Homo sapiens: one gene and its partners. The protein of the gene in region 4 purifies or fractionates together with the protein of the main gene of each other region. This does not show direct contact. Each region holds a gene or a part of one and is shown on either strand. Other genes may lie near its edges. The genes, in order: TMEM169, HPN, SLC18A2 and ADAMTSL3.

Region 1 (7,865 bases), on a different chromosome or scaffold from region 4:
ACCTGTTTTCCCTCCTACAATGACCAAGAGTACAGAGCTAATGGTTGATTGAAGCTAACACTCTGTAATATCACATTTGTAAGAATCTTTTTTTTTTTCTGAGGCAGAGTCTCACTCTGTTGCCCCGGCTGGAGTGCGGTGGTGTGATCTTGGCTCACTGCAACCTCTGCCTCCCGGGTTCAAGCGATTCTCCTACCTCAGCCTCCGGAGTAGCTGAGATTACAGGTGTGTGCCACCATGCCTGGCTAATTTTTGTATTTTTAGTAGAGGGGGTTTCACCATGTTGGCCAAGTTGGTCTCAAACTCCTGATCTCAAGTGATCCACCTGCCTCGGCCTCCCTAAGTGCTGGAATTACAGGCATGAGCCACCGTGACCAGCCTGTTAATAATCTTTAGACTGGAAGTGGAAGTGGAAGATGGGCACAGCTTAACTGCCAGAGAAAAGAACAAAGTCCTCTCTCTTCTCTCAAGTCTATTGATTAAAGCCTTGGAAATTGGGTAAAATTTTCTTTTAACCTCTCTCTTGTGAAATCTAAAAGGAAGGAGAAATGTTTAGAACCTGCTTCTCAGATCAAATACTTACAGCATAATAAAGTATACAAAAATGGGGAAGAGAATCAAGCCTTTCTTTCTTAACAGTTGTTTATGTCATATTTCTGGTAAGACATTTTCTCTTCTGTGTCCTATGAAGTCAACAAGTACATACTGACTTTGTACTACATGTCCAGCCCTGGGGTTTTCCCATTGGTGGTTAAGAAGAAGAGTAAGACAGTTCCTAAACTCTAGAAGTTTGTTATCTACCTAGAAAGATGAATGAAAACTCATGATGCCATCTATAATCTATACAATGATATGAAATGCTGCATAATTAAGTATTAAGTGTATGGTTCAGATGGCAAATGCTATTAAATTACAAATAGAAGGAGGCAAAAGAAAGGGAATAGAAACTAATATTTATGAAGTGTCAGTCACATATTAGGCATTTTATACTGGGCCATTCATTGAATTCTCACCACACACCTGCAACACAGGGTTAGGGTGGGAGGAGAGGACGTGGGGGCTGGGGTAGTCACAGAAGGGGACGTGAGCGAATGAGTCTGTCTTGAGCCAGGCTTGAAAGATGTGGAGAAGCGTGACAAAGATGAAGAAACCAACATAAGCACATGTGTTGAGTAGTCACGTTGCAGGAAAGGGAAGGGGAAAATTGCTACTGAATCCTAGGGTGGGGTGCAAATACGGAGAGCCTCAAACACCAGACAGGCCTTCAGATATATTTTAGTCAGTAATGGCAAGACAAAATAAAAATATTGTTTTGTTTTGTTTATTAATCACCATTAATATGGTAAAAAATGGTAGAGGAATGTCTTCCATTTTAGAATGTCTTCCAGTTTAGAGGAAGTAGTATGAAGGCTGTATTCTGGCATATGGTGGTAGTAGAAATTCAAATGAACAAATTAACAAAAAGATTTCATAGGAATGACTAGCAGGACTTAGAGACTAATTATTATTAGGTATATGGAAATATGTCCTTAATATAGGAAATGGGTTCATCAAAGAACATTCTAGAAGTTTATAGATCTTTGCATAAATGTTGGCGGGTAGTATGGCACAATGAAAATAACATGGGCTTTGAAATTAGCAAACCTGGGTGTCAGTTCCAGTCCCACCACTATACTAGCTATGTAAGCTTGAGCAAATTTCTCCTCTAAATGGGAATAATAAAGGTACCTACTTCACTGGTTTGCTGTGAATATTGAACAATACGATTATTGTAAAGTACTTAGAGCAGCACTTGGCACACAATAAACATCCAATAAGTTTCTGTTGTTACTATTATTCAGTCCAAGTGTCCTCTTCTGCAAAATAATACTTGCTTCATAAAATTGTTGTACCTAGGCTGGTATGGTGGCTCACACCTGTAATCCCAGCACTTTGGGAGGCCGAGGCAGATGGATCACTTGAGGTCAGGAGTTGGAGACTAGCCTGGCCAACATGGTGAAACCCTGTCTGTACTAAAAGTACAAAAATTAATTGCACATGGTGGTGTATGCCTGTGGTCCCAGCTACTCAGGAGGCAGAGGCACGAAAATCGCTTGAACCTGGAGGCTGAGGTTGCAGTGAGCTGACATTGCACAACTGCACTCCAGCCTGGGTGACCAAGCGAGACTCTGTCTCAAAAAAAAAAAAAACAAACAGGCCGGGTGCAGTGGCTCACGCCTGTAATCCCAGCACTTTGGGAGACCGAGGCGGGCAGATCACAAGGTCAGGAGATCGAGACCATCCTGGCTAACACGGTGAAACCCCGTCTCTACTAAAAAAGAAATACAAAAAATTAGCCGGGCGTGGTGGTGGGCGCCTGTAGTCCCAGCTACTCAAGAGGCTGAGGCAGGAGAATGGCGTGAACCCGGGAGGCGGAGCTTGCAGTGGGCTGAGATCACGCCACTACACTCCAGCTTGGGCGACAGAGCGAGACTCCGTCTCAAAACAAACAAACAAACAGACAAAAATTGTTGTACCTAGAACAACTATGCAATATATAGCACATAGTGTTGCTTAATAAATATTTACTGAAGCTGGGCACAGTTGCACATGACTGTAGTCCCAGCTACTCAGGAGGCTGAGGTGAGAGGATTGCTTGAGCCTAGGAGTTCAAGTCAAGCCTGGGCAACATAGAAAGACCCCATCTCTAAAAATAAATGAATACGTAAATATTTTTTGAATGTGTAATTCAGTGAGATAATGCATGTACTGTATAATCAACACAGAACCTACCAAATTACACAATCGGTAAATTCCATAAATGTTGTGGTGTTTCCTTCTTTATCCCTTTCTCCTTTCCTTTCCCCCTTCTCCTTTTTTCTCGGTAACACTGAGAGGTTCTCTGCTGTAAATAAAGATGAGTTTGGTTTGAACATGCTTTGCTAAATAATTCAATTAGAAAATATTCGCCAGGCTATTGGAGATACAATCTTGAGATCTACATTTGGGCGTTCTTGGCATAGAAGTGGTCCTACAGCTGTGTGCAGGAAGGCTGTATATTTTAACAAGAGGAACAGAGTGTGCTGTTGAGAATAGAGGACAATGAATTAAGAATCGGGCCTAGAAAACACTGGCAATTATGGGTTGGAGAAAGCAGATAAGGGAGCAAAAGAAACAGAAGGAAGGTTTGAGAGGTAAAAGAGAATGAGAGTAGAAAGTTAAAGGAGGTGAGGGAAGGTTCAAGAAAGATTTGGGAATTAGTGGAATCAACAGCTTTGGTGTGACAAGGAGAATAAGAATGGTGAAGTGGTCACTGTGATCACATCAGGGACTTTCAAGACTGTTTCTCACCAAAATGAGTGGATCTGTCATCAAATGAAGGAGAAATAGGGTTTTGGACAGCAAACAACAGAACCAAAAAACCAAAAACCATCAGCTGTTCACTGCAGCTACTACCACTTGACTACTTCTATTTTTAATTTTCATTTTATTTTATTTTACTGATTTTATTTTTGAGACAGAGTCTCACTCTCTCGCCCAGACTGGATGCAGTGGCACGATCTCAGCTCACTGCAACCTCCACCTCCCAGGTTCAAGCGATTCTCCTGCCTCAGCCTCCTGAGTAGCTGGGATTACAGGCGTGCACAACCACGCCAAGCTACTTGTATTTTTAGTAGAGACAGGGTTTCACCATGTTGGCCAGGCTGGTCTTGAATTCCTGACCTCAAGTGATCCGCCCATCTTGCCCTTCCAAAATGCTGGGATTACGGGCATGAGCCACCACACCTGGCCTTGACTTCTTCTAAATCTTGGTGGGGAAATCCTGGACTTTAGAGTTATGCAAGTATAGAATTAAACCCAAGTTCTCTCACTGCTATATTTAACGCATTGAACCTAATAGGTCAAGTGTGGAAAATAAGACCTACCTGTCAAGCTTGTTGAGAGATGCAAGTAAGAGAACATCTATAAAGAGTTTACCTTACAGCCTGACACATAAGGCTCAATAAATGCTAATTTCCTGGCCTATTTCTCATCTTTGCAAGTGACTTGCGCGTGTGCGTGCGTGCATGTGTGTGTGTCTGTGTGTGTACAGAGGTTGGGAGTGGGGAGAAAGGGCAGAAGATTGCAGGATGAACTGGATATGAGTGGCTATAAACTATTTGATAGAAAAGCTTGGTTGGAGAAAAATGAGATTATCAGAGAGAGTAAAGTGGCAAGGTAAAGTTATTTTTTTCTAGATAAGGAACTCTGAGTTTGAAGGCAAAGGGGAAAGAGCCAGTAGAAGGAAGTTGGAGCTATTGGAGAAGGAGGAAATCAAAGATGAGGAAGAGATGGGGATCAAGAGTCAAGTTGGGGTGGTCAAAGAAAATACCTGTTTTCAGACCACTCATGCTGGGGAAGGCCAGCCACTGTTGTAAGGACACTCAGATGGCCCATGGAGAGGCCCATGTGGAGAGAAACTGAGTCAGCATTACATGAGTGAACCATCTTGGAAGCAGATCTAGCCTCATTCAAGCCTTCAGATGACTGCAGCCCTGACATCTTTAGAGATCTTGAAACAAAACCAGCTAAGCCACTCTCACACTTCTGACTCAGAGAAACTATTTATAGGAATCCCACAGAAATGTTGAGAAAATTCTATTCACAGAATACTAAAAGGTTCAGAAACCATAAAAACAAAAAAACACTTTTGGACCTCCAAATTCTATAGGCAGGAAGCAGGTAGAGAAGACTACTCACCACCCAGCTAAGGCACTCCCAGTTTATTGACGCACATAATTGTGTGAGATAATAACTTTTTTATTGTTTTAAACCTTTACTTCTTGGGTAATTTGTTACATCACAACAGATAATTCATATTCTTGTACTGTGACATCTGATATATTCCAGACTTGCAGGAAACTAACAGTAAAAAGGATCCCCAAATTTAGGAAAACACTGTTTTTACAGTAGCCTTGATAACAAGTAGCCACCAGAACTAGTTTTAAACATGTTCAATCAACAACTGCCTAAGTGAATACATTTTTGAAAGCCATCATCAGAGTGCCAGACCCTGATTGGCCAAAAGTCAACTCACACTAGTGTGAAAGTCAGCCAAACAGGGACAGAGCCACTCACCTGATTGACTTTCAGAAACAAAGGACTGACTGGATGGGTTAATTTCCAAAAACATGTTTGCTGAGTGTTATGGTATGGTTTGTTTTCCCCCCAAATCCATATGTTGAAATTTCAGCCCCCAAAGTGATGGCATTAGGTGAGGCTTTATGTCATGACGGTGGAGTCCTCAGGAATGGGATTAGTGCCCCCATAAAAGAGACCCAGAGGCTAGGCTCAGTGGCTCACACCTGTAATCCCAGCACTTTGGAAGGCCAAGGCGGGCGGATCATGAGTTTGAGAGCAGCCTGGCCAATATGGCGAAACCCCATCTCTACTAAAAATACAAAAATTAGCTGGGCATGGTGGCGTGTGCCTGTAGTCCCAGCTAATTGGGAGGCTGAGGCAGGAGAATTGCTTGAACTTGGGAGGCAGAGGTTGCAGTGAGCCAAGATTGCGCCACTGCACTCCAGCCTATGCGACAGAGTGAGACTCCATCTCAAAAAAAAAAAAAAAAAAAAAAAGAGAGAGACCCAGAGAGCTAGTCAGCTCCTTCAGCCACGTGAAAACACAGTGAGAAGGCACCATCTATGAACCAGAAAGTGAGTCCTACCAAACCCCTAAACTTGATCTTGGATTTTTTGCTCCCAGAACTGTACAAAATAAATTCTTGTTGTTTATAAGCTACCTAGTCTATGGTATTTTCTTATGGCAGCCCAAATGCACTAAGACACTGAGGGAGATTGTTGTTGATCAATTGAACAGGTTTAAAACTGGTTCTATTGTCTACTTACCATGACTACAAAATAACCCATCTTTTCCTAAGTTTGTGGGAATGTTTTGTAGTCTCAAAGGATAGTGTTCTAATTGTAGGGAGATGAGGAAATCATGTTTCAAGGTAAATCAAGGACAGTGTCTCTGTCCTGTGACTACTGTAAGTAGACATTGGCTGGGCACCTTTCTAAAATGAGCTGTGCCTGAAGCAAAAATAGCCCCCCTAAGGTGAATAGCCAGGAGCTCACCCTTTACATTTCATATTTCTTGTCTAAGGTTTTAATGGGATGTTCAAAAGTCATCTCTCTTTTTGCCTCTGATAGGATTGTCCCTCTCCTCCATCAGCCAACAAGATGACCATGTTTATCTTTTATATCCCCAAGAGACTCCAAAGCTTCTCTTAGCTACTATTTTCTGTACTAGTCTGTCCCTGGGCTCAGGAAGCTCTTCCTGTTATCTAACATTGGCCTCTCCCATTGTGCCCAACCAAATCAAGAGTGTCGAACACTACACCTTTTTATGTTTTTTTTTAATTAAATTAATTCTTTTTTTGAGTGATTCGCCCGCCTTGATCTCCCAAAGTGCTGGGATTACAGGCATGAGCCACCGCACTTGGCCACTTTTTAATGTTTATAAGGCCCATTAATAAGGGTCATCATCTCCATGCATGTGTTCACTTTGCCCTGCCACATCTTCCTAGAGCACCACCCCCTCAACAAAGAGAGAGGAAAAGGGAACAAGAAGTATGAGATTTGCAACTTGCCTTCTCACGTGTACTCTTTAACATTTCTGTCTCCCTTCTGAACATCTTGGTACATCTTTAAAGAAGGAGTAAGGAGTACAGAACATAAACCTTCTCCCAGCTCTGAAGCTCTGGTCCTTTAATCTCCTCGGGGTCTCAACCCCTAGTTTGAAAATTCATGCTGTATAGAAGGGCCAAAGAAGGCCCTTCACAAGCTGCCTCAGAAAACAACAGAGAGAAACAGATGATCTAAGTAGGAAAACACGGTGGATTAGGGTGGCCTCCCAAGCTGTGATCATTGCACCTTCAAGTAAGTACAAAGTGGTTTGTTCAGAGGTCATTCCTACCATAGAATTACCATGATGCAGCTTTCTGAGTGTCAGTGTATAAGAGGACTTGGACCAGGGAAAACATTTTTGTATTAAACATAGACACTTAGAGAGTAGAATTACAAATGTATGTATATACACATTTGTATATAAATATACATATGTATAAGTACATATATAGATATACATATATATGTATATCCTGGAACTTAACGTAATAATGAAGTGTGTGTGTGTGTGTGTGTGTGTGTGTGTGTGTGTGTATACATATAAAATCTTCACCTGGGGGTGGATTGCATTCAGCCTCCCCATTCAGTTTCCTCTGGGTAGAGGTCCACTGTCCTCTGTGTAGAAGCCACTTTGGTAGAAGAGCCCTGGTCAAGCTCATCAATGCCCAAGGCCTGCTCAGCATTCTAATGGTTGGATTAATTGTCCTCTGGAGCTATTTACCTTGGGAGGGCTCTCTCCCCTGCTTCTTCCTGTGTACATCCTTGTACTTTTAGACACCTCAGCCAAATGAATCTCCTGGTCCAGAAAGCTCCATGGATAAGAATTTAAAGATAATGGCTTTCATTCTGCCCCTAGTACACCCCCTAGACAAAGTCAGGCAGTGAGGACGTAGTGAAACCTGCCCATTTCATCCTGTGGATCCTACCACTAAGATTCTCAATTGTGTCGCTGGGTGCCTGATTTATTCCAGGCATTGGGTTAAGTGCCCAGTTATAAAGTTAATTTAGATCCAACATCTGCCAATCCAATGGAAAGACAAAGAAAATCAACAGAGGCTAGAGGAAATACTGGGTGAGAGGGCAGCAGAGGAGAACTCCCCTGCCTGGAGGGGGAGAAAAAGCCATTCCATTGAGCTTAAAATTTACCTAAATTTTAGAAACATTGAAATGAGAAAAAAAAATATGTATTCTGGCATTTTAAGAGATATGCTATACAGT
Region 2 (7,865 bases), on a different chromosome or scaffold from region 4:
GCTGGGTGGGAGAAGAGGTGTGCAAGCTGGACCAGGCAGGGGTGGGACTGTTTTGGGGAAGAGCTGGCCAATTCCTTGCAGTACCAGGTCTCTCCACAAGGTGGCGCCAGTGGTTAGTCCCTGCTTCTCTTGTCTAACTTGTATTTTACAAGTTCTACTGTTTGGGTTGCTTTTTGGAAGCTCTCTCTGGTACCTGATAGTGACCCACATGGTTGTCTGAGAATTGGGGGAAACATACTCCCAAATCTCTGAAAGCCATGCTTATACCCTAGTGGGGCTGGAAATGCCAGGCTGAGGGACTTAAGCTGTCTGGGGGGTACTAGGGAGTCACAGAGGGTTCTATAGGTAAAGAGGGGACAGGTTGGATTTGGTGTCTCAGTAGGTTCCCCAAGCCTCCGTGTGGAGGGTGCGCTAGAAGGGAGACTGAGCCCAGCGGTTGGATGGGGCCGGAGCAAGGTGCAGATGGAGAGAAAGAAGGAAACGGGGGAAGGAGAGTCACTCAGGAGGATTGGCAGGCTGTCGGGGGAGGGGAATGTTATGCAGATGGGGATGGTCCTAGGAGTGAGGGCCTCTGAGACAGGACCGGGAGGAAGAATATACTTGGGGAGACATTGGGGAGACATTCTGGGACCTGGTAGGGGCAAAGGGACTAGGAGGTCCCAGGGAAAGGTATTTAAAAGGTATTTAAAGGACTGCAGGAGCCCTGACCTGGGACCTGGAAGAGGGTCTAGGGCTGGGGACAGAGGGGAAACTGAGTCCACAGAGGTGGGTGAGACAGACTTAGGGGCAAGGAGGAGCAGGGGGAGGCTGCGGCCAGCCCTACAAACTCTGGATTTTACGGAGTAGGTAGAGGGTGGGTGAAGACAGCAGCCTCAGAGGCGGGAAGGAAAATCAGGTGCGCCTGGTGTCCCAGAAGTCCAAAGAGGAGAGCATTTATACAGGAAGCTGCAGTCATGTAAGATGAGGCCCGAGACACGGAGCCACCAGTTGAGTGGATTTTCAGAGCCAGAGAGCCAAAGGTGTTACGCGTGGGGGTCTTTGCAGCCAAATGGTGGAGGCGGAAGAACTGACCTATGAGAAGACCCAAGGCATCCAGAGGGGCCTGGAGAAGCAGGGGCAGAGAGTCTCAGGGAGATGTAGGGGTGGGGGAGGTCTGGCTTACCAAGGGAAATAGCCCTGCTGCTGGGATCAAAGAATTGATGTTGACGTGCCGCCTGTCCCAGTAGAGACACGCAGGGAGGATGAGGATGCGTCCCACACCCTGGGCCAGATGAGGATGCTGCCTGTCCCAGTAGAGACACGCAGGGAGGATGAGGATGCGTCCCACACCGTGGGCCAGATGAGGATGCTGCCTGTCCCAGTAGAGACATGCAGGGAGGATGCCTCTCATACTGGGGGAACCCCAGGATGCAGATGCTTCCTGTCCCACTGGAGGCGCTGAAGTCCTCTGAACCACACAGCATGGAAGGAGGTTCTTCCTCTCACCCTAGGAGACACATACATAGTGGCATTGCTTCCTGTCCCACCAGATGTGCCAAGGCCTCTAGGCTGCATTCTGCATGGCCTAGAGCCCTGGCAGGCACAGCTGAAAACAAAGCAAGCAAGACCAGCCCAGTGGCTGTCGGGAGCCAAGACCTCCTGCTGGAACCTGGAGAGTGGTCCTGGGCAGAGTTGGGGGGCAGGCCTGAGAACCCCTCGCAGGACAGGCAGGGGTCAGCCGGCAGTAGTTGGGCTGGTCTGGCCCACTGGGGCCTCTTTTGGGGAAGAGAGTGTTTCCTCATGCCTTGATGGGAGCCACTGAGCTTTCAATTTTTTTTTTTTTTTAATACAGAGTCTCGCTCTGTTGCCCAGGCTAGAGTACAGTGGCGCAATCTTGATTCACTGCAACCTCCACCTCCCGGGTTCAAGCGATTCTCCTGCCTCAGCTTCCCGAGTAGCTGGGACTATAGGCGCCCGCCACCACACCCAGCTAATTTTTGTATTTTTAGTAGAGGCGGGGTTTCACCATGTTGGCCAGGCTGGTCTTGAGCTCCTGACCTCAAGTGATCCACCTGCCTCAGCCTCCCAAAGGACCGGGATTACAGGCATGAGCCACCATGCCCAGCCTGAGCTCTCAAATTCTTAAGACACCCAGATAATGGCCACACCAGGAAGGTCCTAGACCACTCCCTGCTCTGTTCCAGGTGCTGGCCTGGTGCCGGGTTCACCAGCCACATCACCATGGGTGCAGATGGGCGAGCTGGGAGCTCCTGCCACCTTGGGGTGCTTTGCGGCTGCCAAGGGCAGTTGAACCCAAGCCAGGCCCAGCTGAAGGCTTTCAGCAGCCTTTACTCTTTGGCCTTCTTATAATCCCTAGTGAAGGGGTTGGCTTTTATTTATTTATGTATTTATTTATTTATTTATTTTTTGAGACAGAGTCTCGCTCTGTCGCCCAAGCTGAAGTGCAGTGGCGCGATCTCGGCTCACTGCAAGCTCTGCCTCCCGGGTTCAAGCCATTCTCCTGCCTCAGCCTCCCGAGTAGCTGGGATTACAGGTGCCTGCCACTGCGCCCGGCTAATTTTTTGTATTCTTAGTAGAGACGGGGTTTCACCGTGTTAGCCAGGATGGTCTCGATCTCCTGACCTCGTGATCTGCCCACCTCGGCCTCCCAAAGTGCTGGGATTACAGGCGTGAGCCACCGAGCCCGGCTAGGAGTTGGCTTTTAATCTCCAGGACCTCTTTGCCCTGGGAATAAAATCCCTTTTCCTGTGCCACCAGGCCTCCCCAGCTGGCCCCAGCCTTGGTTCCCACTACCTTCCCCAAGCTCTGGCCATCTGGCCATCTCGATGGCCTCTCCAGCCTCTGACATAAGAGAGCCTGCTTATTCTTGCCTCAAGGCCTTTGCCTGTGCTGTTCCCTCTGCCCACAGTGCCCTTCCTTGTGGTCTGTGTGTGGCTGGCACCTCACCTTTCAGAGCTTAGCTCAGAAGTCTCCTCTAGGGGAGGCCCTGTGATCCCTGATCCCCTGCAGAAGCCCACCTGCTGCCCCAGCCTGCACGGTTTTCTTCACAGCCTCTGCCACAATCTGGAAATTATTGGGTTCATTTACTTGTTTCCTTGTTAATGTCTCCCACTCCCCACCTACACGCATGAGAACGTGAACCCCTGAGAGTCGTAACCTTATCTGTCTTCTTTGGGTTATGTTCCCGGAACCTAGAAAGGTGCCAGGCACACAGCGGATGTTCAGTAGGATGGTAAACAAATAAAGCTTCTTTAGGCTGATGAAAAAACTGAGGGTCAGGCGCGGTGGCTCACGCCTGCAATTCCAACACTTTGTTTGGGAGGCTGAGACAAGCAGATAACTTGAGTCTGGGAGTTCACGACCAGCCTGGTCAACATGGCAAACCCCGTCAATACAAAAAATACAAAAATTAGCCATGTGTGGTGGTGTGCGCCTATAATCCCAGCTACTCGGGAGGCTCAGAATTACCTGAGCCTGAGCGCTTGAGACTGCAGTGTGCCATGATCGCGCCGCTGCACTCCAGCCTGGGCAGCACAGTGAAACCCTGTCTCAAAAAAAAAAAAAAGAAAAAGAAAGAGAGAGAGAGAGAAAAAGAAAGAAAGAAAGAAAGAAAGAAAGAAAGAAAGAAAGAAAGAAAGAAAGAAAAGGAAGGAAGGAAGGAAAAGAAAAAAACTGAGGCTGAGGCTCAGAGAGGGGAGGGGAGTTGCTCAGGCCCACACATCTCTGATGATTTATAAAGCATTTATAGAGAACTTGCTATGTGCCAGGCACTTCCGCACAGTGAGAGCCAGGATGGCTTCGTGGCTGTACACAGGGGACCTGGCATCAAACCTGCCCAGGGTTCTGGACGCTGCTCTGCCTCTTCCAGGCTGTCACTGTGGGCACGTGACCCCACTTCTCTGAGCTATCTCAAAAACAGGAATCATAGTTGTGGGATTGAAATAAGGACTAAATGAGCTGATGTATTTAGAACGGTGCTTAGCACCTGGAGGCATCAATACAATTTGAGCTATTCTTCTTCTTCTTGAAAATAACTTTAAATTATTATTTTTAGAAGTAGGTGCTCAGTGGATGCCCATTTAATAGATAAGAAAGTTGAGGCTCAAAGATATGATGGCACCTGCCTTAGGTTCCAGCTAGGAAGGGGTAGGGTCAATATTTTTAAATGAGGCTGGCCAGACGCAGTGGCTCACTCCTGTAATCTCAGCATTTTGGGAGGCTGAGGAAGGAAGATCGCTTCAGCCCAGGAGTTTGAGACCAGCCTGGGCAACATAGCAAGACCACGTCGCTAAAAAAATTAATACATAAAATAAAATGAGGCTGGCAGATTTTCAAGTGGAGGGGCAAATTTGATCTTGCAACTGGGTACCATGAGAGAGGTCTGATTTAGGGGGTATCTAGGGGCAAAGCATCTAGAACAGCAGAAACGACTGAGGCAGCGAGGAAATGCCAGCGGCAGGGAAGAGAGCTACCAAGAGGGCAAAGGTTGGGGGTCACAGTCCCAAGAAGAGATGGCCCAAAGCAAAGACAGAAATACAAAAGCACAGTGTCACTGGGGAGGAGACATTCCCTAAGTGCCAGGAAAGTGCAGGGCGGAGGTGGAGACCGTGGCAGGTGGCCCGGCCATGCCCCCCTCCCAGCTGGAACCCTGGGGGAGCTGGGCACCTGGTTGTTCACACGGCAGGGGAGGAACAGCCCTGTCAACTGCTGGCCCCGGGAAACTGGGCCTGGGGAGGACATGCTTGGGCATAATAAGTTAGCCCTGGGGGCAGGGCAGAGCTGGCCTCGGGCCCAGACCCTGCCGCAATGAGGACAGGCCTGGCTGTGGCCCCAGCATGGTGTCTGTTGCAGGTGGCCGGACTGTGCCATGCTGCTCCAGACCCAAGGTGGCAGCTCTCACTGCGGGGACCCTGCTACTTCTGACAGCCATCGGGGCGGCATCCTGGGCCATTGGTGAGAGCGGTTCCTGTGCCTCTGACCTCCCCTGGCCCCTGCAGCCTCCAGCCTGCCTGCCCTCACCCCTCCCTTCTCTGCAGTGGCTGTTCTCCTCAGGAGTGACCAGGAGCCGCTGTACCCAGGTGAGTGGAGCAGGCTGGGACCCTCTGGGGGAGCCCTGGAGGACACGTGTATCTGGCGGGAGCTCAACAAGCGTATTTGTTGAATAAATGCACAAATGCATGCAGAAATGCTAATCATAATAGTGCATTTGTATTGAGTGCCTGCTATGTACCAGGCACTATTCTAAGCACCCCACATGTCTAACCCAGACTTTTTCAGACACCAGTGTATTACTCATGAGTGCCTCATAAAATTAAATTAGTGAGTTGGAAAACCATGTTTTTTTTTTAAGTATGAAATAGATTCGATTACAGACTATCACAGTACATCTCTCAGTAAGTAAAGGTTATGCTAATTTTTGTTTGTTTTTTTTTTTTTTTGCATCCATATACATGTAATCCCACTGCATCCCCACACTCTGAGGGTGGGACTGTTATTCTCCCTGTTTTACAGATGGGGAAACTGAGGCTTTGAGCAATGCAGCAGTTTGCCCCAGACTACAGAGCTATGGGCTACATCAGGATGTAAAAATGTGTTTCTTACTGCGTGGCATGGTGAAAACATGTTGGGGAGGCATGATATAAATTCAGTGGACCCTTCTAACTCTCCTAGGAGGTAGTTTTTTTGTTTGTTTGTTTTAAAAAAGAAAAAAGTCTTGCTCTGTCACCCAGGCTAGAGTGCAATGGTGCAGTCTCAGCTCACCGCAACCTCTGCCTCCCAGGTTCAAGCGATTCTCCTGCTTCAGCCTCCCAAGTACCTGGGAATACAGGCGTGTGCCACCATGCCCAGTTAATTTTTTGTATTTTTAGTAGAGATGAGATTTCACCATGTTGGCCAGGACGGTCTCTATCTCCTGACCTTGTGATCCACCCGCCTCGGCCTCCCAAAGTGCTGGGATTACAGGCATGAGCCACTGCGCCTGTCCCTGGTAATTAGCTCCATTTTACAGATGTGCAAAATGAGGACCAGAGAGGACATGCAGCTGGGGAACGAGGGGCCAGGAACAGCTCTTAGACTTATCCACTGTAAGTGTGTCTGCAGGCATGTGGAATGAATGGCCACACAAATAAATAGATAAAGAAACTAACTGTGGGATGAATGAATGAATCTTCCCAAATGCCAACTTCAAGCTGCCATTCCCTGATGCAGGACAGCAGGAAAAAAGGGGAAGTTGGGTGGTGGGATGTATTTTTCATGTCTGTGAGCCTCATCTAATTCCATAAAGGATTCAGTTCACACTAAAATCAGAAATGAAAATCCAGACAAGAAAAGCCAACATCAACATTAATCATCATTACCAGCACTTAGCATTTGTATGCACCAGCCAAGGCCTTGGGACCTTATGATATCAACTCATTAAGTCTTCCCAACAACCTGTTGTTTTTCTTTTCTTTTTTTTTTCTTTCTTTCTTTCTTTCTTTTTTTTTTTTTTTTTTTTGAGATGGGGTCTTGCTCTGTCGCCCAGGCTGGAGTGCAGTGACACGATCTTAGCTCATTGTAACCTACATCTCCTGGGCTCAAGCAATCCTCCCATCTCAGCCTTCTGAGTAGCTGGGACTATAGGCTAATGCCACCATGCCTACACAAAATTATTTTGTCAATAACAAATTATTGTTATTTTTATCTTTTTGAGCCAGAGTCTCGCTGTGTCGCCCAGGCAGGAGTGCTGTGGCGCGATCTTGGCTCACTGCAATCTCCATCTCCCAGGTTCAAGTGATTCTCCTGCCTCAGCCTCCTGAGTAGCTAGGACTACAGGCACGTGCCACCACACCCAGCTAATTTTTGTATTTTTAGTAGAGGCGGGGTTTCACCATGTTGGCCAGGATGGTCTCAAACTCCTGACCTCAGGTGATCCACCCGTCTCGGCCTCCCAAAGTGCTGGGACTACAGGCATGAGCCACCACACCCAACCTCATTTTTTAAATTTTTAGTAGAGATGGGATCTTGCTACATTGCCCAGTCTGATCTTGAACTCCTGAGCTCAAAGCAGTCCTCTCAGATCAGCCTCCCAAAGTGCAGGGATTACAGGTGTGCACCACCACAACCCATTTTCCTATGGGGATGCTGAGGCACAGAAAGGCTGAGTGACTTGCCCCAGGTCATGGAGCTAGTCAGTGTCAGGGCTGGGATTTGAACCCAGGCAGCCTGCGTAGTAACTGTATATAGTGTCTACACTTGATTGCTTGTTAAAAAAAAAAAAAAAGAACAGCTGAATTCATTGCCATAGTAAAGACTGACATATGCCAGGCCCTGGCGGCAGCCTTTACCCAGCAGGCCTATGAAGTTAGGGCTGTTACATCCCAACATTTTGCATTTGGGGGAAATTGAGTCCCAGTGAAGCAAACTGACTTGCCCGAGGCTGACCACACATCAGAGACAGAGCGAAGGGATCACGCCCCTGTCAAAAGCCCCTCCGTGACAACACGTGGCATTGAGATAAAATCCCAACCCATCACAGGCTCCAAGCCTCCTAGTGTGGAGGCCCCTCTCCACCCCCACCTCACACTGGCTTCTAGCACCCTCAGGGCCCAGTCCCTTGCTCAAATGACCTGCTCACACAGAAGTCTCTACTCACCCACTTCTTTCTAGCTCACACCCAGAGGCAGATTTCAGTTCTGCACAGTTCCTTCTGAGCTGTGGGGCCTCCCACCAGTCCCTACTCTCTCCAAGACTCAATTTCCTCATCTGTGAGATGGGGGTAAGAAGAATCAGTGGGAATAAGAGGAGATAAAAATCTGTGTAGTACTTGGGCGGGGTGCGGTGGCTCACCCCTGTAATCCCAGCACTTTGGGAGGCCGAGGCAGGCA
Region 3 (7,865 bases), on a different chromosome or scaffold from region 4:
CGAATGCTCCATTGGACACATGTGCTCACAGCTTCGATTATATGTTTCACAATTTAATTTGTATTTTTTGTTGTTGCTTTTTATTTTGGTTTTTGTTTGTTTTTTTGAAATGGAGTCTCACTCTGTTGCCCAGGCTGGAGGGCAGTGGCACAGTCTTGGCTCACTGCAACCTCCACCTCCCGGGTTCAAGTGATTCTCCTGCATTAGCCTCCCGAGTAGCTGGGTTACCGGCATGCCCCACCAAAGCTGGCTAATTTTTGTATTTTTATTAGAGACAGGATTTTGCCATGTTGGCCAGGCTGGTCTTGAACTCCTGACCTCAGGTGATCTACCCGCCTCGACCTCCCAAAATGCTGGGATTACAGGCCTGAGCCACCGTGCCTGGCCTGTTTCAGTTTTGCTTTTTCCTTGTGAAAGCCTTAGGAATTCTTAAATCTTACAAGTTGTAGGAAAAATTACAGATTCCCACTCATAATAGAAGGATGAAGTGGGCCTGTTGCAGAATTTCCAAGTTATTACTTCCTGCAGGTTAATTTTTTTCTAAGACACATAATGAAGTGTAGTTTTCTGTTTCCTTGATTCATTCATTTGAAAGTCTTTTGAGCCTCTCTTTCTTAGAAGCACTGGTTGACTCCAGGTCAGCACTCTCTTAACGTCAGGCCACATTTTGCTTTTCTGAAATATTCCTTGAAGGAACAATGTGGAAGAAACCCACAAATGACAGAATCTCTGGGACCAGTCAGTTCAGCACAGCAGCTGCCTTTTGAGAGGAGACAGTTCTCAGGGCCGTTGGGGGCATGGTTCTTTCTAGTGAGCTAAGTAAAGTGAACTTGCTCCAATGTCGTTATAGACATATGGCACAGGGCTCCTGTTTTGGGGTAGACCTGTCACCCTCTGGACCTCTTCTGGCATTTGACACAACCATAGTTTTGTTGTTGTTATTGTTGTTTTGTTTGTTTGAGACAGAGTCTCACTCTGTCACCCAGGCTGGAGTGCAGTGGTGCAATCTTTGCTCACTGCAACTTCCACCTCCCAGGTTCAAGCGATCCTCCTTTCTCAGCCTCCAAAGGAGCTGGGATTACAGGTGGGTGCCACCACGCCCAGCTAATTTTTGTATTTTTAGTAGAGAGAGGGTTTCTCCATGTTGGCCAGCCTGGTCTCGAACTCCTGACCTCAGGTGATCCACCTGCCTCAGCTTCCCAAAGTCCTGGAATTACAGGTGTGAGCCACTGCTCCCTGCCGACACAACCATAGTTTTTTGCTGGCTTTTTTCCTGGAGAGGGTTTCAGTGTGATCACCACCTTGCCATTCTGCTCTTATCCCCAGTCCCCATCATCCCAAGTTATCTGTACAGCATTAAGCATGAGAAGAATGCTACAGAAATCCAGACGGCCAGGCCAGTGCACACTGCCTCCATCTCAGACAGCTTCCAGAGCATCTTCTCCTATTATGATAACTCGACTATGGTCACCGGGAATGCTACCAGAGACCTGACACTTCATCAGACCGCCACACAGCACATGGTGACCAACGCGTCCGCTGTTCCTTCCGACTGTCCCAGTGAAGACAAAGACCTCCTGAATGAAAACGTGCAAGTTGGTCTGTTGTTTGCCTCGAAAGCCACCGTCCAGCTCATCACCAACCCTTTCATAGGACTACTGACCAACAGGTAGGGCAGACTACTTTAGTCAAAGAGTTTGATATTTGTATCAGTCCTAGCTTATGTCCTTCCTGGAATTCTGCTTCTTACTCATTGGTGAGAGTCTGGAAAATCCATGGTGGGTGAGCTGGGGAAAACCCAGTCCCCTTCCCCTATGTCTCTGTTCCCAGATAACCACAATTTCCTATTCTATTCTCCCTTCTGTTGCTCAACAAGTAAGAAAATATTAAAGAAGACAGAATAAAGAGGACCTCTTCCACCAAGTGGGAGGACTTTGGCCTGTCTAAATGCCAGGTTTCGTAAGTGCATTTGTCAGAATCGCCCTTGGCAGCAGGAACTCTACAGCCACCATGGCTGTCATCCTATTTTATGAGCCATGTGGCCTCCTCTTATCTCCTACCTCAGGCCATGCACTTCTCTGTAGAGAGCCAAGGTGTCTTCTTTTGGAACTGGCATGTTAAAGCCTCTCACAGATACCAGGTAGGGAGTGTGGGAAAAGGTTGGACGCACTGGTGCGCAGATGGAGCTCCGAGTTGATGCCGAGGTCATGGGCTGTGTTCTTCCCTTCTGCTGGCTACGTAGCCACGTCCACGTGCATGAAAGGAAGAGAACTGAGGCTGTTGTCTGGATAATCCAAGCTGCCCAAACTAGCTTCAGATGAATCAGGCTGTTCTAGATTTTTTTGAACCCACATTGTTTGGAATAACTGTTTACTTCTCCATTGTTGGTGAAGTGTTTGTTCTTCTGTAGCTGAGGTGGACCAGTTCTGCCTGGTCCGTGGGGGCTCAAAGCTCAGGACAAGGGCCTTGCAGCTGAGAGGAGGAGGCAGGCCCCCAAGGTGTCAGTGCAAGGAGTGGGAGCTGGTACAGTTAAGTGTTGGTGGTGGGCTGCCAAGTGCGCAGTGTAGCTACCTAGGTGAAAGTTACAAAACACCAGAAATGGTGGGGAGGGGTGTGCCCAGAGTCCTACCTGCAGACCAGGCCCAGAAGCAGGAACAAAGACTAGACTAGAGATGGAAGAGATGGTGGCGAGGAGAGGGTGGAACTAAGGAGGCAGGGGAAACCAGGGCTGGGCTAGGCTGTAAGAGGCCCCAAGTGCTGGGCTGAGAAAGGAGTGGGATTCTGTGTGGGGCAGTTGGGAGCCATTAGAAATTCCAAAGCCAAAAAGAAATGAGTGAATCAAGCACTATTTTAAGCAGGGTAGGTGGGCAGGGAGCAGGGAGAACTTCACATTTCCTCTGCCTTTGGCGTGGGGAGTGGGGCGCAGGACTGGCTGCATAATTTGTGGGTCTCGGTGCAAAATGAAAATGTGTGCCCCACATTCAAACATTATGAAACACTTCAAGGTGGCAGCAGAGCATTAAATCAACCAAGCTCTGAGAGCAGAGCCCTGTGCGACTCTAGGGTTAGGGGCACCGAGAGGTGAGGAAGCCTGGGGTGGTGGCTGGGGCTCAAGGAGGGGATGGCAGATCTGGCCTTCCGCCAGCACAAGCTGCCTTGGACACATGGAGCTTGAGTCGGACAGGAGCACATTCTCAACATCTGCAGTTGAATTTTCTGGATGGAAGGGTGCCATTGAATTGATTTCAACAATCTCAAGCCATGTCCAGCCCTCTAGTCTGTGCAGAGCAATATTCTAAGGCTGCTACATAAAACATGCTAAGCAAATTAACCCAGCGAAGGGCTGACTGTGAGCCCATTAAGAAGGTGACATTCAGTGACTCCTCTGTTCTCAGGAGAAAAACCAAACCGACCTCAGTAGTTGCAGGATTGTTTTCTTTCCTTTTTTCAAGACTAAGAATGCTTCTTAAAATGCATCTGGTATAATTACAGAAAATAGCTCAGGGTTTTGTATTCTGAGAAAGCAAACAGCTCAAATATTGTATGTGAAAATTGAGGACATTATCGTAATAATACCTTGCCAATCACTTGGGTGGAACGTTACTAGCCGTACAGTGTAATACTTAGAAATTCGGCTGAAATGATGTGAGTACTCCAATCTTCCAAACGCAAATGGCAAATGAAAAGCTTTTTTAAAAATCCCATTCTTATTTTTAATGCTTTGCTTATGCCATGGGGAAGAGGCTTGTTTAAAACCAGTGAGCTCTTTCCCCTGTTAAATACTCCAACGGCTTTGAGGCTGTAGCCACACCAGGCTCATGTTTGGGACTTCAAAAACATTATCTTCCATTTTGTGACTTGTGAAATTTAGTCTATTCTCATGGTGAGTAATCCACTTTAGAAATTATCTAGAGCAAAATTGTAATCCCCAACTGTTTTGTCCAGCTACCGAGCAAATTTGAAAATGATTTTCTAGTGCTGCCTGGTAATATGGAAGGACAAACAAATTTTTTTTTCTTTTTTTTTGAGATAGAGTCTTGCTCTGTCACCCAGGCTGGAGTGCAGCAGTGTGATCTTGGCTCACTGCAACCTCCACCTCCTGGGTTCAAGCAATTCACATGTCTCAGTCTCCTCAGTAGCTGGGATTACAGGCGTGCACCACTATGCCTGGCTATTTTTTGTATTTTTTGGTAGAGACGAGGTTTCACCATGTTGGCCAAGCTGGTGTCGAACTCCTGACCTCAGGTGATCTGCCCACCTCGGCCTCCCAAAGTGCTGGGATTACAGGCGTGAGCCACCGCCCTCAGCGAGCAAATAAATTTTCATATTGTGATCCTGATTTGTAATTTGTCTCATAATTTCCAAGCCCAGTAGATATGAATTTGGGGACTGGGCAGCTCTTCTGGACACTCCAAGATTCTGCTTCCCACCGCAGTTCAGATGGATTCAGAGAAGGGACAAATGTGCATTCCATTTGCCTTTAATTGTCTTCAAGGAGTTAACTTGTGAGCCATTGCAAACAGTCTTTTGATGTAAACTGTGCCAATCACATCCTCCATGAGCAAGATGTATGACTCAAGTCTTCAGTGTTGTAAACAAATGTGTTTAAAGGCTTTTTAAAATTGGTTAATATGTTTCTGATTAAAGAGTAGTTAAAAATATGGAGCATCAGAGCTTGCAGAGACTTTTCCTGAAAGCTTTTGGGCCAGTCCTAGCATTTTATAGGCAAAGGAGTTTGCAGTTCAGGAGGAGAAAGCATTTACCACAACAGTGGCAGGACTGTAGCCACATGTTCCGACTGTCCCATTTCAAGCTTTGTTCTTCCCCGCTTCCTGTTCTTCCCACCTGCTTACAATTATACAGCTTGTACCTTTAGCTACTAGAAATAAAGAATGCAGCTCAAAATCTGTCTTTCTTGCACTGACTTGGGCTCTTCCTGGTTGTACCAGGCAGAACTGCTGGAGACCCAGTGAGTTGCTGATTTTGCTACTTTTAATCAATGAGCAGAGAGTTTAGAAAAGATCAGCCTGATTCCTGTGGACATGGAACCTCCCTGGTCCCTGAAATATTCAGTCTTTTTCCAGTCCCTGATGTGAACTGGTCCAGCCTCGTGCATCCCTAAAGATGTGTGGGGAAAGCTTCCTGTAGTCAGGCTGGGCAGAGCTATTCTTTTCCAAAGCTGCTTGTTTTAACTGAAGTGGGACCCACTCTGAATCGAGACATTCTACACCACACCACACCATAACTGGAATCCTCTATTCACAGTCGTGATGGTGCCATGTGTGTGGCTTTTGTGGGTAGGAGTCACAAAATGTAGGCCGCCTGTTTATTTATTTATTTATTTAGACAGGGTCTTGCTCTATTGCCCAGGCTGGAGTGCAGTGGGGCTATCTCGGCTCACTGCAACCTCTACCTCCCAGGTTCAAGCAATTCTCCTGCCTCAGCCTCCTGAGTAGCTGAGACTACATGCCACCATGCCTGGCTAATTTTTTTTGTATTTTAGTAGAGATGGGGTTTCAGCATTTGGCCAGGCTGATCTCGAACTCCTGACCTCAAGTGATCCTCCTGCCTCAGCCTCTCAAAGTGCTGGGATTACAGGCGTGAGCCACCATGCCCGGCCCTGTCTGTTTTTTTTAAATATTCGATAAGTTCTCACACCAAACCCTGAAAATATAGAGTAACAATTCTTGGGTTCATTTAACTGCTAATAGGATGCACATTCTTCCTGTTTCATTTGTTATTCAGATCCTGTATTTCTGCTGAAAATATATGACCAGTTAGGTGGCAAAAACCTTTGATTTGGGTGTGTGTAGTGATGACCTGGCCAATAGCACACTTTCCAAGAAAGCCTGAGGTTGCTGGATTGACCTGATTTCCATGTTGGAACCTCTTGCCTCCTATTTTATAATTTTGGCTGAACTATTCATTTCATGATTGCAGTTGTGTGCAGGTGGTACCAGAAATTATACTAGTGATACTTGGTCATCATTTGGTCTAAGAAGCAAATTTTAGATATATATGTCCATAAGAGGAAAGTTCCAGGCACATGAACAATGGGACAACACGTTTACATTTCTCTCTTCCCTCAGTCAGGTAACGATATGGCATTGTGGTCTTGCTTAGCATAAGGTTGAAATAATAGTTGCATCTTCAGAACCAAAAGATATTCCACACCAAACGACTGGCTTGGGAAAGAGTTAACTTCATTGCTGGGGACCGTTTCCCTTGCTTCCTTCTTAGCTTGTCATTGTCTCAGTGATCTGCTTTTTATCAAGCCAGCGTCAATGGCTTAATTTATTTCCATAGTTACTTAGTATATTTGAAAGCAGTTCTTTTTGCTTGCAAATCTTAGCTAACATCTGAACGACAAGGAGGAAGCCACAGGGCATGAAATCTCTACGAAATCTACCATGGTTTTATTTTATTTTTTTGCTAGCTTCAGCCAGTGGGTCTGAAGTGGGCTGTGTAGGAACAAGCAGTGACCTTTTCAGCTTCTCTATGGACAGGGAAACCGGCTGTTCTGAGAAGAGATCTCCCATCCTGCATGTGGTTAGGATGGTAGGGAGGGCTTGATGAGTCTTTGCTTCTGAAATCAGAGGAAACTGGCTGTGGAATTAGAACATTCCTAGGAGAAGCAAAAGCTCTGTTAAGCTATGTGTCAGAGAACAGGGCTCACGCCCAGGAAAGTGAGAAGTCCGTGCCCCCTGGAATTCTCTGGTAGCTGAAAAAGACAAGCAGAACCTAAGAATTTTGACAAGCGGAATCGAAGAATTTTATTTACTAAATGATTGACAAACCTCCTACTATATCCAGGCAAATTGAAAATATCATTCCATTTACTGACATTCATTTACTGCACACCTTTTAGGAGTGTGTAGGGATCACTGGAAGGGAGCTGTTGTCTCTCGTTGCATCTGGTGATAGTTTGCACCCTTCGGGGCTCTGTAGTCTGTATGCTTCTTGTAATTTACCACGGTAGAGGAAACTGTGGTTTTAGCAATCATGAGAAGAGAGCTTCCATTAGTCTCTATGGCAAGGATAAGCTAATTATTAACACTAGAGAAGTATTGTCTTCATTGACCATTTAGGGACAGATGGGGTTTCTCCAATGACTAAGTATATATAATTAACATAACTTTTATTGTTTTACATGTTTTTCTAGGGATTCATTATGTGATTTTTAGTCTTACTCAAATTGGATTAACTGCTTCGTGATGCTCTGTAGAGGATGACCGTGGGCCAGTATGACATTTGGCTAAAGGTTTGCTGAATCAGATCTGGCTCTGCTTAGCAATACTTTAATTGAGAAGGCCCTGAATTGAGACAAGGGGGGCAACTCAGACACAGATTGTGACTAATGTCAGTTGAGTTTCTGTCTGTTTAGGAGATACTGTGGGGAAGCAGAAAGGGTTTGGTCCTTCTGCCCACCACTCAATGACTAGGGACGCTGGACGACTCTCCTTCTATGGTGGGTGCCCGAGGGGCCAGAAGAGTTTGAGAACGGAGACCCAGGAGCTTCCCAGGGAGTCTTCTTTGCCTTGAAGCCGAGCTCTGGGGAAAAATGATGCCCAGCGCTTACCACTGAGCAGCCCATGCAGTGGCTTGGCCTGTGTTGAAAGTGCAGGCACAGGTGTGTCCGGTACTGAGGAGGCGGCAACATGAGCCTGGTTGTATCTGAAGCCATTGGCTTGCTCTGCAGCCATGGGTGAGCCACTCTGTCTCTGAACCTCAGCTTTCTCATCTAAGGTGAGGGTTTGGACTGGCTAGCCCTTGAGTTTCCTTCTAGCTGTGATATTCGTTTATTCCATACGTGCATTGTTAAAATCCCAAAGAAAATTAAAAAGAAAAACAGTAGCTGCAGTGTT
Region 4 (7,865 bases):
TTTTTTTAGAGCATCTGTGGTCAGAGTTGATATTGAACCTGCACATACCAGTATGGACATGGTCAGAAATATGGTCAGAAAAAAAAGAATTAGTAAACAGCCTCTGCTGGAACCCCATGAGCATTTCTCACCTGCTCAGGCCACTCTGCCAGTAACCGCCTGACTTGTCCATAATCGAACAACTATGGGGTTAACACTTCGTACCATAGTAGGCCTCCAAGACCCTATTCCAGTGCTATGGCCAGACACATTCTGTTGATTGAGCCCTTGCTGTGAAGATTTAGTATTTTGAACACCATCTATATTATCTATAGTAATGGATTGACTATAAATTTACCAGGGAGTCTTCCATACATGTTTTTCAGCTTTTGATTGTTGAACAGTAGAAAGTTCAAAATTGTATTCTAGCCAAATTAGGGGAAATTTACATGGCTTAACTGGCTGGGCCATTTGACATACTTTGTAGATACTCTGTCTCCCAAAAAGTAAAAGTATGTATGTGGCAGTTCATCCAGCTCCACTTAGAGATGATGTGACAGAGCATTTTCAAGCAGAACCCTGGACCCATCCTGAGATCAATAGGCCTGACCTACCAATTGCATCTGTATGGAATTTGTATACAAACAAATTATGTATGTCCTTCACTGAGAACATTCTCTACCACAGAAATTATGGGTTCACCTCCATTGTTTCCCTGAACCTGTTGACACCACGAAACCCCAGTAGGCAGCCAGACTTCAAAGGGCTCATGAGGCGTGCAAGAGGACTTCAGTTATTCTCAGTTCTCAGGGTACCAGTAAACACACTGTAGCCAGCGCCAAGGGCCTGAGAAGGCTATGAAAGAGAAGTCTCAATCTGCTTCTTCTCCCAGCGTGTGCTACAACAAGGAGGACCTGTAACTGGGGTCCCCCAAGGTAAATTAGGTCCCCATTGCATGACCTTCTAAATCCAGAGGTATTCTTGATGTTAGTCCAGTATCTCTTCTGCCACTCACTAGTGCTTCCAAGCCATCCATCCTACACTCCACAATCTGCTCAGGAACCTAAATACATCATCAAAGAGGATCCAGACTTCCACCCATATCACTGTCCTTCTCCCATGCCTACCTCAGAATCACCCCAGAACACATTGAGCCTTCTCTCAGGTGAAACAAGGGAGAGAAATACTTCTCTTGGGGACAGGATCTGAGAAGTATTGTCTTTGGGCCTAGCCCATTAAGAGGAGCCGATCGATGCCCAGGAACAAGTCAAAGCCAACCCCATCTCTGTTCCCTCTTAGTCTTCCCTGCTGTGCATTGGCTGCACCTGCCCTTGTCACCAGATCAGTGGTGGCAGCAGTTATATATGAGAGCTCATTATGTGCCCGCTACTGTGCTGTGCACTTGATATAAACAATCTGACTTAATTTTTACTTCCCTCCCATTGAAAGCACTAACATTATTCACATTTCACAGGTGAGGAAACTGAGGCTCAGAGAGATGAAAGAATTTGTCCAAGTGGCAGAGCTAAGATTCAAACTCAGGTTTATCTGACTTCAAACTGCCTATGCCACCTGTTCTTTTTTGATCACGGCTACCCATTGCTTCTTCAGACCCCCATGCCAATTTAATCGACATATTTGGGTTATATTCTGCAGCTGGCCAACCTCAGCCTCCTTTCAGACCCTTCAAATACATTTGCTCACATTCCCACTCTCACTTCCTCCCTCAGATTTGGGGTACCCATGGCTCTAAGCCAGAGGGCCTCTCTGCCAGATAGTAGAGACCTGACATATCAGACCCTTATTGATGGAAACATGTACCCAGAGGCTGGGTATTTATGGAGCCATTATATGAGCATGGCCTAGAACAAATATTCCTCAAATCTAGAAATAACTATTCCCTACATTTCACCAAATCATTTAACCTCATGCCTCCCCAAACCAGGGTTTTATCAAATCACTTACACATTTTCATGCACCTCATTCACACTTGCATTCTTTGCCACTAAAGTACTAGATAGTTGTGAAATTTACCCCAATCTGTGGATGTATAATGTTATTCATGGTTTTATTCTTGAATGTTTTAAAATAGTAAAAAAGATACGTTTGTTAGCCTGTATCAGCCTTGAAAGATTACTGTCAAAAAGTCTGTATTTTTGAGATGTTTATTCGTATTTTCTTTTCTTTCTTTTTTTTTTTCTTGGAGAAATCAAATCAGAGATGAAGACAAAACTTGGTGAGCAGGGTCCGCAGATCCTCAGTGTCCAGAGAGTCTACATTCAGACAAGGGAAGAGAAGCGTATTAACCTGACCATTGGTAGCAGAGCCTATTTGCTGCCCAACACATCCGTGATTATTAAGTGCCCCGTGCGACGATTCCAGAAATCTCTGATCCAGTGGGAGAAGGATGGCCGTTGCCTGCAGAACTCCAAACGGCTTGGCATCACCAAGTCAGGCTCACTAAAAATCCATGGTCTTGCTGCCCCCGACATCGGCGTGTACCGGTGCATTGCAGGCTCTGCACAGGAAACAGTTGTGCTCAAGCTCATTGGTACTGACAACCGGCTCATCGCACGCCCAGCCCTCAGGGAGCCTATGAGGGAATATCCTGGGATGGACCACAGCGAAGCCAATAGTTTGGGAGTCACATGGCACAAAATGAGGCAAATGTGGAATAACAAAAATGACCTTTATCTGGATGATGACCACATTAGTAACCAGCCTTTCTTGAGAGCTCTGTTAGGCCACTGCAGCAATTCTGCAGGAAGCACCAACTCCTGGGAGTTGAAGAATAAGCAGTTTGAAGCAGCAGTTAAACAAGGAGCATATAGCATGGATACAGCCCAGTTTGATGAGCTGATAAGAAACATGAGTCAGCTCATGGAAACCGGAGAGGTCAGCGATGATCTTGCGTCCCAGCTGATATATCAGCTGGTGGCCGAATTAGCCAAGGCACAGCCAACACACATGCAGTGGCGGGGCATCCAGGAAGAGACACCTCCTGCTGCTCAGCTCAGAGGGGAAACAGGGAGTGTGTCCCAAAGCTCGCATGCAAAAAACTCAGGCAAGCTGACATTCAAGCCGAAAGGACCTGTTCTCATGAGGCAAAGCCAACCTCCCTCAATTTCATTTAATAAAACAATAAATTCCAGGATTGGAAATACAGTATACATTACAAAAAGGACAGAGGTCATCAATATACTGTGTGACCTTATTACCCCCAGTGAGGCCACATATACATGGACCAAGGATGGAACCTTGTTACAGCCCTCAGTAAAGTAAGTAAAATAAAAATGCAGTATTCATTTTTGCACTACCTTCTTAATGGCTATTCCAGTTTTCTTGAAAATATTTTCAAATTCCTCTCCTAAGCATGTGTTTCCAACAGGATTCTTTAGGAAAGAAACTAAAAAATGTTAAGATGTGTTTTTCACATATACGTTGGAATTTTTAAATTCAACCGCCATATCATCCCAATCACTGTCGTAGAGGTGTGATATGACTGGATCCAGCAAGAATAAGTTTAAGCATATATACACTCCCCCTTTACTCAGCACTTGGCATTTAAAAATAAAATCAATATAAGGCCATTTTAAAAGTAAGCTTATTAATAGTAATCCTACATTATGTTGGAACTGCAAATCAGAATTTACAGAGCTCTTCCATGTCTAGGAGATGTGGTATCTTATTTGAGCTCACATCAGCCCCATGAGATTGGCAGGGCAGGGGTTAACCTTTCTGATGAGGTAATTGAGAAGCAGAATCCCATGACTACTTCATGGCCAATCAGAACCAAGGGCCGTATCTCTTGAATACCCACCAGTGGTATTTGAGTATCACACAAATACGTAGCCTTGTCAAAAGCTTGGGTATCTGAAGTAGTTTTCTATTATCATGCAATTTTTAAATGTCATACAATCCAAAAATAAGAATCATAGTGTTTTGAGATGTTCAAAACACAGTATTAAGTCACATATTATTCTGATCTCTATGCCAGTGTAAAAATGTCACATTTCCTTTATTTTACATAACAGATACTAATTTACTTTTGCATTCTTTATTGCCTTCAAATCTTGCTGTTTGTATACAAAGTACTATAGACATTGTGCCTTCTTTTGATTCACATGTAAGAGCTCCAGCTCTACCTTATCTGCCTTTAGAGATCGTTAAGAGACACAAATAACACAGCAGATGTGAAACTGTTTTGCATATCACAAGGTACTTTCAAAATGCAAGTTTTACTTTTATCATGTCCTTTGTGCATTGAGCCTCGTATGTGAAACATCAGAAAAAACTTAGGTAAAATTCAGTTTTTTAAAATAATAAACTATTAGGCTATATCTTAAAAAGGTAGAAAAAATCTAATTTTTGAATTTTTAATGCTAGAACTATGAACACAAGAGTACAATGAAATTTTAGAAGTAGAATAAACCTTAAAACATAGCAGTTCTCAGAGCTTTTGGTTTTAGACTCTTTAAAATTTAAAAATGATTGAGGAGCCTAAAGAGCTTTTGTAAATGTGAGTTGTATCTATTGCTGTTTACCTCACTAGAAATTAAAACCAAGAAACATTGAAAATATCTCCATTAATCTATTTAGAAAAAATAATGGGCCTATAACATGTTCATACAAATAACATATTTTTTGAAAACCCTCCCCCTGCCACCAAAATTACTGATAACAGTGGAATTGCTTTCCATCTTTGCAGATCTCTTTAATGTCTGGTATAATAAAAGAAGACAGCTGGATTCTTTTTCCACATCTGTTGTGAAATGTTGTTTTAGTTAAAGTATATGGAGAAAATAAATGTGTGCTATACAAATGTGTTAGCTGGAAGAGAAAGAATATTTTAATATCTTTTCAGATAATTGTGGATACTCTTTAATTCTACACTAAAACTAGACAAAGGGTCATTTCTCAAAGGTTAGTTGAAATGTGCAATCTGAAACTATATTAATGAAATGTTGGTACTCTGTTTAATGAAATCTGCTGTTTTTTTCTTGCATTTTGAATAGACTTTTTACCCATACAAGATTTTTTAACACCATACATTGGTCATTTGGAAAATATTGGCTCACTGAGTGATACAGGCCTTCCAAATGTTGGTGCATTTCATTATGCAATGTAAAAAAAATACACATTTAAAAAAATCACCGTGTATCTCATAAAAAAAAAAGTCTTTAAGTTTTGGGAAGCTGTCAGACTTACAGTGGTGGATACCAGTTTTCCAAAATTCTAATTTTCACATCAAACCTTTTTCATCATTGGCAACAAATACTGTCAGTTGTGTCATTGAATTGGCCAGCTCATTTAAAAAATATATATATATATATCTACCAAATACCCAACTTTAAATCATAGTGTGGACTTTTTTGTCATAGTTTATTGGTCATTCTTTCAAGTAAAAATCATATTCCATGAAAGAAGCCACCAGTTCTTCAGCATGCAGTGGAAGTGCTTTGTGTGTACTTCCCATTGTGTCGTATGGGATATGAAAAACGTATGGACCCAAGGGTCAAGATTTAGTAAGATTAATACCTTTTACTACTTCATTAAAGACATTTCTTTTTTTTTCTTTTCTTTATTGAGACAGTCTCGCTTTGTCACCCAGGCTGGAGTGCAGTGGTGGCATCTCAGCTTACTGCAACCTCTGCCTCCTCGTTTCAAGTGATTCTCCTGCTTCAGCCTCCCAAGTAACTGGGATTACAGGTGAACACCACCACCCCCAGCTAATTGTATTTTTAGTAGAGATAGGGTTTCACCATGTTGGCCAGGTTGGTCTTGAACTCCTGACCTCAAGTGATCCACCCACCTCGGCCTCCCAAAGTGCTGGGATTACAGGCATGAGTCGCCACGCCTGGCCGTTAAGGACATTCTTAAGGGAAACTGGCATTTTTTTTTTTTCTGCAAGTAAAACATAGTAGTCAAGAATACAGTAATTACTGGTACACTTCAATATCACTGTCTTGGTTCATGCTAAGGTGCCAGCAGTCTTACCAACACTGCCTTTGCACTCTCAGTGCAAAGGTCAATACCGTTTTTAAAAAGGCTAATTAATGGCTTCGTATTATTATAAAACTAGCTTTGACTTCATAGACTTCTGGGGGGTTCATGGACTATGCTTTGAAGACTGCTAACTTGGTTCAATAATCCATTTTATAAATTGTAAGGAAAGAGAGGCTGACAAGGTTGAAGTGATCTGTTGACCTATGGCCATATAAGTACTACAATGATATAGAGGAGCCTGGTCAGTTTAAATAAATATTTATTTGAGTTCATTTTAAATAGATTGACTTGATGGAATGGCGTTAACATAAGTTTATCAGGCTGAGACCCCTGGAGCTTGTATAAAGAAGTTTTGACATGGTACATCCTCCTTAGATGTGTTTCTGCATCCTTTAAAGATCAGCCATTCAAAACAGAAGCAATTTCATATGTCTAATAAAAGGTTTTGTTTTTAATTTTTAAGATAATAAGATCCATTTTCATTTCTATTTTTCCTCCAAAACCTACCCAATTAATTTGTTCAATTTATGTTTAATTCCCTTTACATAACAAATGTTCTCATCTTTAAATATACTTTCTGAATCTTACAAATCTTTTCAGTTGAAGTAATTGAGAAATGGAATTATGTTCCTGAAAGCCTCATTCAATGAGAGAAACTGTGTAGGCATGGAGTACTGTTCGGATGACAATTGAGTAAGAAATCTCAACTAGGAAGAGAAGTTTGTGGGTGTATCAATTAGAGATGGTGCCTATAGAAAGATCAACTTTGTTATTACTTCAAGTTAAGAGTAAGATTACGCAGCAGAGGCCAAGGTCATATGTGTTACAGAATTCAACCTGGTGGTTCTCCAGCCCAAGGACAGATCCAGGCTAGGTACCCAGTGGCCCCACCTGTCATGTAAGGTTCACGCATGCTCAGCTATTTCTGATCTCAATGATTTCTCACTGGACTGTTACCTGAAACCTACAAAACAAAGGCATTATTTGAGAATTCCTAAATCATGCAAACATATATATGAAATAATTTAAGAAAATGATTTAATATGTTTATTTTTCATGTGTAGTCACTGGTTAGACTTTTGCTTTTAACCAACTATTTCTCCTCCATCAGGATTTGACACTGAAAATCTTGCCTTACTAACAGCGAGGTCTGCCATACTCTTGTTGCTCTGAGACACTTTCGCTGTTTTGACTTCTGCCAGCTTTTGTATATTTCTTATGTGTGCTGCAGCAGGGCTTGTATGCTCTTGGTACTATTGCTCTGTGCCATTATTTCATACTATTCTAATCATTCATACATTTAGTCATCAAAGATTTTTGAGAACTTGCTATATAAAAGTCTAAGCAGTGAGTATGCACAGCTGTGAATAAGATTTGGTTCCTGCCCTTGAAAAGATCACAGTCTAGTGGGAAGAAATAGATATTTCATCAAATAAATATATGAACCAGAGAAGAAGGAGCCCAGAGGAGACAGAAGATAACTCTAGGAGTATTGGGGAAAACTTTACAGGGGAAATTACATTTGATCCAGGACTCAGTGGGCGGGTCTGAGTTTGCCAGAAAGGAGGAAGGGCATTTCAAATGAAGTGAACAACATATGCAAAAGCTCACAGTAATGAAAGATCATGGAATGTTCTGGAAACAGTTAAGGTTCATTATGACTGAAGCATAGAGCGAACGACATGAAGTGACAGGAAATAAAGAAGTGGCACAGTTCATTTCATGATGAAACATACAGTATTTAGAGGGCAGAATAGTCCATATTGCTAAGATCTATGAAGTGAGATGGGGCAGGGGAAAAATAGTATATAAACCACTGATCCGGGTGATTTAGAAGCAGATTCAAATTATTAAGAATAAAATAAAATAAAAGAACAAGC

What was found.
Region 1: the proteins of ADAMTSL3 (region 4) and TMEM169 purify together in Homo sapiens (co-immunoprecipitation; one large-scale study listed by IntAct). This does not show direct contact.
Region 2: the proteins of ADAMTSL3 (region 4) and HPN purify together in Homo sapiens (co-immunoprecipitation; one large-scale study listed by IntAct). This does not show direct contact.
Region 3: the proteins of ADAMTSL3 (region 4) and SLC18A2 purify together in Homo sapiens (co-immunoprecipitation; one large-scale study listed by IntAct). This does not show direct contact.

The regions. Positions count from the first base shown.
Region 1 is NC_000002.12:216,085,983-216,093,847, forward strand, and holds part of TMEM169 (transmembrane protein 169), read left to right. Parts: intron 1-7,865.
Region 2 is NC_000019.10:35,044,439-35,052,303, forward strand, and holds part of HPN (serine protease hepsin precursor), read left to right. Parts: intron 1-4,824; exon of another isoform or gene 4,825-4,851; coding exon 4,852-4,953; intron 4,954-5,036; coding exon 5,037-5,078; intron 5,079-6,007; coding exon of another isoform or gene 6,008-6,083; intron 6,084-7,865. UniProt on the Homo sapiens protein: Serine protease that cleaves extracellular substrates, and contributes to the proteolytic processing of growth factors, such as HGF and MST1/HGFL. Plays a role in cell growth and maintenance of cell morphology.
Region 3 is NC_000010.11:117,242,645-117,250,509, forward strand, and holds part of SLC18A2 (synaptic vesicular amine transporter), read left to right. Parts: intron 1-1,326; coding exon 1,327-1,669; intron 1,670-7,865. UniProt on the Homo sapiens protein: Electrogenic antiporter that exchanges one cationic monoamine with two intravesicular protons across the membrane of secretory and synaptic vesicles.
Region 4 is NC_000015.10:83,980,088-83,987,952, forward strand, and holds part of ADAMTSL3 (ADAMTS-like protein 3 isoform a precursor), read left to right. Parts: intron 1-2,185; coding exon 2,186-3,257; intron 3,258-7,865.